Homo sapiens: one gene and its partner. The protein of the gene in region 1 purifies or fractionates together with the protein of each later gene. This does not show direct contact. Each region holds a gene or a part of one and is shown on either strand. Other genes may lie near its edges. The genes, in order: ARPC4 and ARPC1A.

What was found.
Region 2: the proteins of ARPC4 (region 1) and ARPC1A fractionate together in Homo sapiens (co-fractionation; 7 studies listed by BioGRID and IntAct, with this or other methods). This does not show direct contact.

Annotation. Positions count from the first base shown.
Region 1 is NC_000003.12:9,802,867-9,807,627, forward strand, and holds the end of ARPC4 (actin-related protein 2/3 complex subunit 4), read left to right. Parts: intron 1-976; coding exon 977-1,147; intron 1,148-3,343; coding exon 3,344-3,349; 3' UTR 3,350-4,235; downstream 4,236-4,761. UniProt on the Homo sapiens protein: Actin-binding component of the Arp2/3 complex, a multiprotein complex that mediates actin polymerization upon stimulation by nucleation-promoting factor (NPF).
Region 2 is NC_000007.14:99,321,116-99,329,134, forward strand, and holds the start of ARPC1A (actin-related protein 2/3 complex subunit 1A), read left to right. Parts: upstream 1-4,782; 5' UTR 4,783-4,889; intron 4,890-8,019. UniProt on the Homo sapiens protein: Probably functions as a component of the Arp2/3 complex which is involved in regulation of actin polymerization and together with an activating nucleation-promoting factor (NPF) mediates the formation of branched actin networks.

The DNA of each region.
Region 1 (4,761 bases):
TTGTGTTGGCTAGGCGGTCTCAAACTCCTGACCTCAGGTGATCCGCCTGCCTCGGCCTCCCAAAGTGAATCATAGTCTGCAATCTGGGCTCACTGCAAGCTCCGCCTCCTGGGTTCACGCCATTCTTCTGCCTCAGCCTCCCGAGTAGCTGGGACTACAGGTGCCCGCCACCATTCCCGGCTAATTTTTTGTATTTTTAGTAGAGACGGGGTTTCACTGTGTTAGCCAGGATGGTCTTGATCTCCTGACCTTGTGATCCGCCCACCTCGGCCTCCCAAAGTGTTGGGATTACAGGCGTGAGCCACCGCGCCCGGCCCACTGAATCAGTCTCTTAAAGCCACAGTTAACATTGGGTCAGTTGTTGCCTGAATTTGTACTTGAATCTTCTCCACAGACTCCTTGCCAGGTAAACTTAAAATATCCCCAGTGACTAAGCAACTACCACACAGCAGCATGTGCCATCATCAGACACGTCAGGCGTGTTAGCCAAGTTCTTCCTCATTCTGAGCCAAATTTTCTCTCCTGGTCCTAGATCTAACCTCTGGGGCCACCCGGAATAAATAAAATTGATCTTCCTCCCACAGCCCTCCAGCAGAAAAAGACCCTTAATCCCACCCATCTTCCACATCATCTCTTCTCTGGACTAAATGTTCCCTGTTGTTTGATTAGATTATTCTGTAACAAGACTTCAAGTTCCTTGACTCATTCTGAATGCAGAGCTGTTGTGCCACAGATAGTTTTCCAGAGATGTCTGATACACACAGAATTCTCAACGGGGTTCAGTTGCTTGGATCCAACCTAGACACCCTCCCCCAGAGCAGCTGGGCTGCTGACTGGAAGGGTATGTAGCTTGGGAGAAGATCACAGCCAGTGGGAAGCATGTGGATGAGTGGAGGACATGACCAGCTCAGTTCCCATGGGGTGCTAATTCTCTCCTGTTCCTTCTCTTCCCCCTCCCTACTGTCTTCTTCCCTAGGGGTATGATATCAGCTTTCTGATCACCAACTTCCACACAGAGCAGATGTACAAACACAAGTTGGTGGACTTTGTGATCCACTTCATGGAGGAGATTGACAAGGAGATCAGTGAGATGAAGCTGTCAGTCAATGCCCGTGCCCGCATTGTGGCTGAAGAGTTCCTTAAGAATGTGAGTAGGGGCCTTTAGCTTTCCTTCCAGAGGCCAGAGGATCTGGGGGTCATGTTGAGAACTTAGCATCTGGTGGGAAAGGGGTCCAAGCAGTGTGTTTATATCTCCTGAGCTCTCTAGGACCCCTGGGGCACAGCAGGTCAGTCAGGTGCTTTGGAGCTAGAGGACCCCAAGTTCATCTCTGAGAGCTACAAGGCATTTTCTATATTTGGGTGTCTGGGGTGGCTCTTAGTCTCTCGTAGGAACTTGGTCACTCATTTCTACATCTCAGGATGTTCACAAAGTCCTTGCCTCTATCTCGTTTAAACCCCAAGTGAGGTAAGTGAAGTCTGCATGTGAATTTTCTAGGAGTATAGGACAATTAATCATGTTATGATTCCACTTCTCAAATAGACTTCAGTACTTTCCTTCAGCATGTTTCTCAGGCTTAAATCATGATTCCTTCAACCTGTTTTCCATCACTTGCATGGCGTAAGTCCTCCAGATTCCTCTTACGTTGTTTATGTCTTTCTAATTGAAAGCACTTTAGTCATCTGAAGAGGTAGAATTGTTTACATTGATGAACTGGTGACATCGTTCTTAGTTGTTTAGATATTCAGAACATGCCTTTTTTTTTCTCCTTTTTCCAAGCAATCTTTGGTTTGTTGACATGTGCCACCCAGAGTGGCTGTGATCTCTAGACGGTAGACTTAGTGTGTACTCCCACCAGTAAGTACATACCCAGTCCAGAAGGAGCTCAGATTCCTAAAAATGGAAATTATACCCGCTTCCCTTGGGATTTAATTATACTGAGGGTGGCCAGTGTACAGAGTAGCTGTGGTGGGTGCACAGGTCGGCATGGCTGTTCAGCTCACTCGGCTATGGAGGCAACCCACCTGTGTGGGAATCCAGGCTCCACCGCCTACTCAGGCATGTCACTGAACTCTCAACTAAGTCTCAGTTTCCTCAGCTGTGAAATGAAGGTCTGGTAATTAATACTTATCTTTCAGTGGTTGAGCATTAAATGAGACCATGTGTGTAAAACGTAGCACCTGGTACATAGTAAGCTTTCCGTGTATTGCACCACCAAAATTTTATGGCCAGGATATTAGGAGGCCTCTAGATTGAACTGGAAGGGGAAAATAGCTCTTGTTCCAATTGAATATTTGGCTCACTCACTCAACAATCATTTACTTATTTATGATAATTATATCGCACAGAATTGGACCCCTAAAAAAGTATGTTCACATGTCCCATTTATTACTCAAAACAGTCTTTGAGTCAGCTATTATCGCCATGTTAGAGATTAATAAACTGGGGCTTTAGAAGTAAAAGCACCTGTCCAAAGTCCCTCAGCCAGTAAGAGGAGGAACCAGAATGTGGAGCTGGGTTTTCGGACTCAGAGGTCTAAGAAAGTACCATAGCCTTTGTCAAGGGTCACAAATTCAGGTGCATCCAAAGGTCGGGTAGCTATGGAGTGGGCTGAGTATGGAGTGGGCAGGGTGAGGAGCTGCTGAGCGCATGCCTCATGTGCAGGGGCTGGCTCCCACACAGCTCCAGGCCATTGAACCCCCAAATTTGGATTTGTATATGGCATCTTCCATGTTTTCAAGGTTGGCAACTAATTCATATTGTTTTAAACACCATGTGGGCCATGCAGTGCTCATCTTTGGGCTAGTTTCAGGCATGGGCCATTGGTTCACAACCTTTGGTCTCTAAAATGTGCAGGGCTGTCCTAGGCAGCATGGGGGACCCTTGAGGGCAGAAAACATTTCAAGGGCCTGGCTTGGTTGGAGGTTCATCCAGAGCTTGACACAAAAGTACCAGAACCTGGGTCCTTTTCCACTTGGCCCTCTGAGTCCCCAGGCCCCTTGCATGAGAGCCCCCATGCCTAAAGAAAGCAACCTCAGTTCACCAGGCAGGACGCTGGCAGGGCTTTCTAGCAGCCTCCATGCCAGGGCACAAGGGAGCTGTGGAGAAGCTCTCATGGCTCTTAATTTTTCTGCCTTATCTAGTGCTAGGCTTAGGGCCGGTGCCCATAGGTCACTTCTGAAAGCTGGCTGAATTAGAGCATGACCACAAGGTGTCCTGGGACCCAACTCTGCCCCTCACAGATATGAGCACAGTGGCAGCTCTCAGGTTCATGCACCTCCTTAGAGCAGTGCCACCAGGATGCAATAATAACCACCATGCACTGCCTCTTGGTTCTCTTGACAGTTTTAAACCATCTGGCTGGATCTCGTGGCCTTCCCCCTCAGACTACCCATGTCTCCACGAAGGCGTCCTGGAGTCACTCCCCGAGCAGCGCGGCGGCGGCAGGGAGTTGGGTTGGGGTGGGCATTTGATGCGGGAGGTGGGTGGTGTGCTTGCTAGCTGGGCAAGAAAGCAGCAGTGGACCTGCCCCAAGGCCACACGTGCCTGGTCAGGCTGGCTTCTGATGTTCAGTCCCCTGGGCCGGGACAGATTTTTTTTAACGTCTTGAAACTTAAACTCTGTGCTTGTAGGATACTGTAACCTTTTTGTCTTTTTTTTTTTTTTTTTTTTTAAACCTCCACCTCCAGTGGCTGTGACTGGTCCCAGTGATTATACGTTATTGGTTGCTGTGGGTCTGGGCGGGCCTGGAGCCAGAAGGCGACTTATTTTTTCTCTCCTATGCCACCCCAGGTGGGGAGGGAGGGAGGTTTCAGACTCCAGTTTCTCCCTTGCCCTTTTATTCCCAAGCCTCCTTGGCCCCAGTATAAGTGTTGGGAACTCTCTGCCAGCTTCCTGAGTTCTGCCTAAAGATGGCCCCCCAGCACTGGTTGGGGACAAGGGCCAAATTGGTGACCACCAGTCATGCCTAGGACCTGGGGCCCAAAAGCCGGGCAACCTCTGGCTACAGGGGCCATTGGGTGCCCTCCCAGTTGAGAGGGGCCGCTGTTTCGCCTTGTCCGTCAGTGCCAGTGCCTGTGCCAGAGGTGGCGAGGTGAGTCCTCCAGAGCTTCCTGGCCGGGCCCTCCTCCTGCCTGTTCTGGCTCCTCTGCTCCCACGCTAGCTGTCCCTTTTCTGATTCTGGTGGATCCTCCCTCCCCTAATTAAAGTCTCTTTTTGCCCCTTTGGGGCTGCATGAGGTCTATGCTGTGTGTGTGTGTGAAAGGAGGGGAGGTGGGGCTTCTTTTCCCTGAGACCAGATGGCTGGTAATTGTGCCTGGAGCTCCCCACTGGGTGCAGTCTCATGATTGGTCCTGCCATTATTCCTGCCAGGGGTCCCAACCCAGAGACTCCATTCATTGCAGTCCAGGCACCATTAATTTCTGAAACTGCTCTGTCTGCCTATACAGAGCTTTGGTGCTTTTCACATAAGGAACTTACTTGGGCTAAAAAGTAACCTCAGAGAAACAGTGCTCCCATTTGGTGGATAAGGAAACTGAGGTTCCAAACATGAGATGTAATAGCTTGCCCCAAATCTAGCCAGTGAGCAAGAGAGTAGACTTTTGCCTGTGCCAAAACAGTAATCACCATCCACAAGTGGCTATTTAAATTTTAATTATTACAATTAAATAAAGTTTAAAATCCAGTTCCCCAGTCCCACTGGCAACTTAACAGCTACCAGTGACTGTACCATATATAACAGCATATATAGACATACAGCATAT
Region 2 (8,019 bases), on another chromosome or scaffold:
CGGTAACAAAATGTCTAAGTGGCTCTGGCCTTGAGGAGATTTACAGGTTCATGGGTTACAGATTTCACTTATTAAATTAGGTAAGTAACACAGGGAATTCCCAAGTCTGCTTGTATGATTGTCTTACAAGTATGGTATTTGCGATAATATGCTATTTATACACACCACCTGAGACTACCCTGTGCCCCTAGACATCCCGTGACTGGTCCCATCTCTGTCCTATGGAAATGAACTGAGTGAGCAGTGGAAAAATCCACATGCACTTTTCAGTTCACCTGTATTGAACTCTACAAAATCCTTTCCATAGGAAGTTTTCCTCACTGGGAACATACCCAGCAATTAGGACAATATCTAAAGCATAAGGATTATTGTTAACTAATAACACACAATATGCATTAATAGTTTTGTCCTTTTGTTTGTTTATAGCTTTTATTGGCATTGATTCAGTATTTCCAACAGTTTTTTTGGTGACTAGATGGCAGGCATTATTGGAAGATCTGCAGTAATTGTTCACCATTTCAGCTGTTGGCACAACAAGCAAGAAACAATCTTCTTACTCTCCAACTCCACATTCCAGTTATTAAATCAAGCTCTCCTGAGAAGGAAATCCTTACGCCTTTACAAACATGTAACCTTCCTAAACTATGATGGATTATGTTCCTGATGTGTCTATATAAGCCCCACCTTCCATTCTCAACTAGCAGTAACCTCTGTGTCCTTTGACATCCAAATTGTTTTCTTTCATTCATTTGCACTTTCATTCAACGAATGTTAACCAGGACCTTCCAGATTCAAGGTATTGTGCATTTCCTTTTATTTAAAATTATTTTAGCAGCATCCCTGGTCTAAAAATAAGATAAAATATTTTGTGGACTGGTCATATCCTAATCTCTAAGTTACTTGAGAACAGAAGGATCTTACTCTACTCTTATTAACACAATAGTTGGCACTTGGTGAGTATTTATTAAATATTTGATGCCTTGAATCTTGACCAAATTCTAATTCAACTCAATTCCAATTCCAATCCAATCAGCAAAGCAAACAAAATCAGCCCACGGTAGTGTCCAACCCCTCCCTCTCTTCCATTGCCCACTTCTAAGTACCACCTTCCCTGGCACTAATTGTTAAGTCTAATTAGGGAAAAGGAGTCAGGATGGTGGGAGCAGGGGGAAGCAAAAAGAAGCAGGTAAACTACAAGTCTGCCATTCTTTATGGTCCAGACACACAGCCCTCCTCTGCAAATAACTCACAATCTTCCTGCGCCCAACAATTACAGCATAAACACTATTCCATAAAATCCCCAGCAAGCCTTTCTTTGCAGTTGGCTGCTCTTCTGCTGATTCTGCCTGTTGCCTTCTCGTACCTTCCTACTTTCTCTAACAAATCTGCCTTTATCTACAACTGTCTTGGTAAATCCTTTTACCCACGTACCACCAGCCCAGACAGCTGCCCCTCACCCATGATACTAATCTTTTAAAAGGTTGAGTCTGCATTTTGGATACTACATCACACATGCCTTAAAAACAAACATTAAAAGTAACTCACCCTCCTTAGAACCCTGATGGTTGGCTTTTATAGCAGGGCACGATGGTATAACCAGTAAGGCCAGAGCAGGTGGCCAGCCCCCCAACCCTCCCTGCCTTGTATCAAAACCCTCAGGTTTCAGGCCAGGCTTGGTGGCTCATGCCTGTAATCCCAGCACTTTAGGAGGCCAAGGTGTGTGGATCACTTGAGGCCAAGAGTTCAAAACCAGCCTGGCCAACATGGCAAAATCCCATCTTTACTAAAAATACAATAATTAGCTAGGTGTGGTGGCACGCGCCTGTAATCCCAGCTACTCAGGAGGCTGAGGCATGAGAAACGGTTGAACCAGGGAGGTGGAGGTTGCAGTGAGCTGAGATCACGCCACTGCACTCCAGCCTCGGTGACAGAGCCAGACACTGTCGCATAACAAAACAAAACAAAAAAATTCCTCAAGTGTCAAAATTTTTCTTTTTCTTCAATTACAGAAGAGCCCCGCTTAGAGCTAAGATTCTACCATCTGGAATGACTCATAAAATATGAAGTGGGCCGGGTGTGGTGGCTCACGCCTGTAATCCCAGCACTTTGGGAGGCCGAGGCGGGAGGATCATGAGGTCAGGAGTTCGAGACGAGCCTGACCAACATGGTGAAACCTTGTCTCTACTAAAAATACAAAAATCAGCTGTGCATGGTGGCGTGTGCCTGTAATCCCAGCTACTCAGGAGCCTGAGGCAGGAGAATCGCTTGAACCTGGGAGGCAGAGGTTGCAGTGAGCCAAGATCGCACTATTGCACTCCAGCCTGGGTGACAGAGTGAGACTCCATCTCAAAAAAAAAAAAAAAAAGTGAAATGCATCAAATGGTAAGCTTTGGTTAGGCTAAATTGCAAAATACTATTTCAAATCAGAACCAGAGATTAATAATAGTAAATATCTGTTATTTTTTTCTGGGGCTAACATTTCTTGTCACTTATCATAAAGTCTGGTATTAATTTGCATGTGTTACTCTCATCTACCCAGATTATAAATTCCATCAAAGCAGTAAGTGTTCCTTGTAAAGAGGTGGGATCTTCATAAACTCCTCTACATACTTGGGAATTGGTTCAAGTAACTTGCAGACACACAAGGAATCCCTGCTTTCCACACCTGCTGTCCTCCCTTTCCCAAGCTGTCTCTTGGAGGGGGTAATGAATTTACAATGATCTTTCTACACTATCTGCTCGATTACCCTATGACCAAAGACTTTGTAACCACAGGTCAGAGTTAAAATCAGAATTTCAGTGAAGCGATGTTCCATGAACAGCTGGATTCACTAACTCAGTGGTCCCCAATCTTTTTGGCAGCAGTGACCGGTTTCATGGAAGACAATTTTTCCACGGAAAAGGGGGCAGGGGCTAGGGGAGAGGGGTGGGGTGGTTTTAGATCATCAGGCATTAGATTCTCATAATGAGCATGCAACCTAGATCCCTCGCATATGCAGTTCACAATAGGGTTCACTTTCCTATGAGACTCTAATGCCCCCACTGATTGGACAGGAGGCAGAGCTCAGGCCGTAATGCCAGAGATGGGGAGCGGCTGTAAATACAGATGACACTTCGTTGGCTCGCCCTGCTCACCTCATGTGCCAATGGGTTCCTAACAGGCAACAGACCAACACCCGTCAGCAGCCAAGGAGTTGGGGAACTCTGCACTAACTCCAAAGAACATAGCGGGTCTGGCAGGGCATGGTGGCTCACGCCTGTAACCCTAGCACTTTGGGAGGCTGAGGCAGGCGGGATCACCTGAAGTCAGGAGTTCGACACCAGCGTCGCCAACATTGCAAAACCCCGTCTATACTAAAAATACAAAAATTAGCCGGGCATGGTGGCGCGCAGCTGTAGTCCCAGCTACTCGGGAGGCTGAGGCAGGAGAATCGCTTGAACCCGGGAGGCGGAGGTTACAGTGAGCCGAGATCGCGCCACTGCACTCCAGCTTGGGCGACAGAGAAAGGCTCCGTCTCAAAAAGATCACAGCGGGTCTGAAATTGAGAGTTTGACAAGTATACCTACATAAACCTCACCTTACAATACCAAAGGGAAGGAGACAAGCCCTTGGTTGGCCTGGCATGGCGCTGGGCGGCGGCGGGGGGGAGCTCACATCGCTTTGGGAAGCAGAGGCTAGAGGATTGCTTGAGCCCAGGGGTTCAAGACCAGCCTGGACAACATAGGAAAACCTCATCTTTACAAAAAATATAAAAATTAGCCAGGCACAGTGGCTCACACCTGTAATCTGAGGGCTTTGAGAGGCCAAAGAGGGACGATCGCTTGAGCCCAGGAGTTCAAGACCAGCCTAAGCAACACAGCAAGACCCTGTCTCTACCAAAAAATAAAAATTAGCCAGGCGTGGTGGTGTGCACTTGTAGTCCCAGCTCCACGGGGGGCTGAGGCGGGAGGATCGCTTGAGCCCAGGGGTTCCAGGCTGCAGTTAGCTATGATCGCGCCACTGCACTCCAGCCTGGGCTACAGGTTGAGAACCTGTCTAAAAAAAAAGAAAAAAGAAAAGCTCTCGATTAGCCCCATCTGTGGGGGCTGGGGATGCTCCAGAATTTCTAGGGTTCAAGGGCAGCAGCCTGATTGCAGGTGGGGATCAGGGCATTTCTTGGAGGCTGCATCTGCGGGGCAGGCTCTGTCCTCTGTGAATTGGGGGCCTTGCCAAGTTCCCCCAACCCTTTTATCCCTGCTGCGCCATCTTGGGAGCAGGGAACTGCTTGGGAGCAGGGGATTCTGTCCCAGGAAGGGTCGAGAAAGTTCCTGGGGGGCTTCAGGGGCTTTCCACAGAGGGAGCACGGCGGGGGCGGAGGCTCCCTGCAGGGAGCAGCGCTGAGGTAGACTGGCTCTGACCTTGGCTCTCTGAAGGGAGAAAAACTTAATCGTTCTTCAGGTCCAAGAGCTCCAAAGACCCCCAATCCTCAGTAACTCATCTCCTGACAAAAGACCTTGCGAAACTGCCAAAGCGCCACACTTCGGCTCGCGATTGTGAGGAAATTGGTTGAGGAACGGAGTGGGACGCCCATGCCGCTTCGCCAGCACTTGCCAGGCGTTCCGTGGGGCAGCATCTCCTCTGAAGGGCCGCCGACAGTACCACGCCAATGGAACGGCGTACCCTCCTCCACTGCAGCCTGCCTAACCCCGGACTGCGCGCCCGAGCTGTGCGCATGCGCGGACCGTCCGCGCGGTCGCAACGCGCAGGCGCCGTGTCCACTTCCGGGATCTGTCAGCCGCTCCCTCTGGGCTTCCGTCCTCCGCCCGCGCCCGACGGAGCCTGTTCGCGTCGACTGCCCAGAGTCCGCGAATCCTCCGCTCCGAGCCCGTCCGGACTCCCCCGATCCCAGGTAACGGCCAGCAGGGGCGAGCGTCTCACCCTGTCGGCCTCTCTTGTCCAGGCCTGGCGCCGGACTTGCCGCGGGGGCAGTGAGACGGGGGCTCAGGCCGCGGGGCCCCGAGGCTGAGGCGCGGCCGGGTCTCCCTGCCGGGGCCTCCTGAGGGGGCGGGGATCCCCTTTCTCCGTGGATCCCCTGCAGCTTTTCTCAGGATGTTCGAGCTCCTAGCCGCCTCCGATGCCCGAATTAACGGCCCCTTCTGCGCCCCCAGGGTCCTACTTGCACCTCTGCTGGGGGCATTTGTCACCGTCTCTAAAATTGTGTCAAGTAGGAGGATCTCCCGTAATCGAGCGACCCGCGGGACTATTCATCTCTTTAGTGTCTAGAGTCGATCCCTGCATACAGTAGGCGCCCATAGGATGTTTGCCTGCTCTCTAGGGCAGCCCTCAATCCTTCGGTTAATGGGGAACCTTCTCGATCTCGAGAAAAACCTTCTCCCGAGTTCTTTTAAGATTTCCCTGCATGAGTACCGCCTTCCCCCAAGTCAAAATTGCACCCTTCTCGGCGCTCTTATTCATTTAGTGGAATCTTTTATGCCAGTCCTGGCACCACCACTTTGTTGAGTGATCCTGGGAAGATGCTTCTCTGCGCCTGTTTCCTCATCTGCAATAAAAAGATTCTTACCGTTTTGCTAAGAATCAAGTGAGCTTATTTGCATAAATTGCTTAGAATAGTTCCTGGCCGAGAGTAGGTGATCAATAAATATTAGCTATTATTACTGCTTCTGGGCATTCTATGCATATCCGTCTTCCTTTCCTTTTCTATCTCCTCCACTCTCCCCAAACACCAACCCTCCAGACTTGAAGACCAGAATGGTGTCAGCCTTATTTATGTTTCTAGCCCCATCCCGGTATTTACAACACTGCTGGGAACATGATAGGCACTTAATCAGTTATAGCTTAGAATCTTTGATTATAAAGCCATCTGTTCTCCTGCAGCTTTGGAACCTTCTGTCTATGTCAACTCGTAGCTTAAATTGCCGAGATTATCTTAGTTCTGCCCTCTCTCCTCAATTTTATCTAGTCTTGTGGTTTCACATAGGGCCTGGGTTTTCAGGTATCTAAAAACAGAGGAGGGGCATCAGTCAGGAAGGTGTTTTTGTCCTGTTAGGGAGTGGGTAACTGTGGTTGTTGTCTTCCTTTTTTTTTTTTTTCCTGCAGCCTCGACCTCCTGGGCTTAACAGATCCTCCCACCTCAGCCTCCTGAGTAGCTGGGACTACAGGCGTGTGCCACCACACTGGGCTAATTTTCATTTATTTTTATTTACTTATTTTTGGAGATAGAGTCTCACTCTGTCACCCAGACTGGAGTGCAGTGGTGTGATCTTGGCTCACTGCAACCTCCACCTCCTGGGTTCAAGCGATTCTCCTGCCTCAGCCTCCCGAGTAGCTGTGACTACAGGCATGAGCCACTGCGCCTGGCTAATTTTTTTTTTTTTTTTGTATTTTTTGTAAAGACAGGGTCTCCATATGTGGCCCAAGCTGGTCTGGAGCTCCTAAGCTCAAGCTATCCTCCCACCTCGACCTCCCAAAGTGCTGGGATTTTGGGTGTGAGACACCACACCCAGCTTATATGGCTATTTTCTCCCACAAAGTATTCAGAGATCTTCTGGAGTTCATCTGTTAATCACAGTTAAAGGAAGGGACCATTTCGGAAAACTCCTATTTTGGACGCGGAGTGGTGATACTTTGATCTAGTTGTCTCATCCAATGCTGAAACAAATCCTATATAAAGAAGTTTAAAATGGTCTGCTGGTGAGGCTGGTGCCTGGACTGGAGCCTGTCTGAATGTTGAGGAGGGTGTGGTGACCTTGTTGGAGTACTTGATGTTGCTAGATTGGCTAATGAGAGTGATTAGGAACTAGGTGAATCACGGTCTTGAAAACTGACCCTAAACAGGGGACAGAAATGCCCACTTTTGTGGGCATTTTCAAGCTCCAAAGGAGTAGGGCCAAGAATTTATAGCATATGTCAACGTTTCCAAGCTCAGAGGAAACTAACTGGTGGGTTCTATGGTTGGTTTAAAAGCCTTGAGTTGGCCAGGTGCAGTGGCTCACGCCTGTAATCCCAACACTTTGAGAGGCTGAGGCGGGTGGATCACCAAGGTCAGGAGTTTGAGACCAGCCTGACCAACATGGAGAAACCCCGTCTCTACTAAAAATACAAAATTAGCCAGGCATGGTGGCACGTGCCTGTAATCCCAGCTACTCAGGAGGCTGAGGCTGGAGAATCGCTTGAACCCGGGAGACGGAGGTTGCGGTGAGCTGAGATCACACCATTTCACTCCAGCCTAGGCAACAAGAGCAAAACTCCATTTAAAAAATAGAAAAGCCTTGGGTCAAAGGGAGAAAGGGAACCTGCTGGCATGTATTTCAGGCTAGGCTCTGTACTACTTGCTTTCACATGTCTCATTTAATTCTCCTTGTGATCTCAGTGGTATATCCACTTTACAGAAGAAAAAAATGAGATTTAGAGATATCAAGTGACTTGCCCAGGGTTTCATAGCTAGTGTGTGTCAAAAGCCAGGGTTCAAACCCAGCCTCGGCTTCAGAGCCCATGGCTAGCCATACATCAGAATGACTCTGTACTCAGTGATAGATAAAGAAAAGGGGTGGGGGCCGGGCATGGTGGCTCATGCTTGCAATCTTAACACTTTGGGAGGCTGAAGTGGGCAGATCACTTGAGCCCAGGAGTTTGAGACCAGCCTGGACAACATAGGGAGACCCCTGTCTTTACAAAAAACTAAAAAATTAGCAGGGCATAGTGATGCATGCCTGTGGTCCCAGCTACTCAGGAGGCTAAAGTGGGAGGATGGCTTGACCCTGGGAAGCCGAGGTTGCAGTGAACTGAGATCACACCACTGCAGTCCAGCCTGGGTGACAGAGCAAGACCTTGTCTGAGAAAAAAACTCAGAGAGAGAGAAAAGGGATGAGGGGGGAGGGAGGGAGGAAAAGAAAAGGGATGAGGGGCAGGGCGCGGTGGCTCACGCCTGTAATCCCAGCACTTTGGGAGGCCGAGGCAGGCGGATCACGAGGTCAGGATATCGAGACCATCCTGGCTAACACGGTGAAACCCCATCTCTA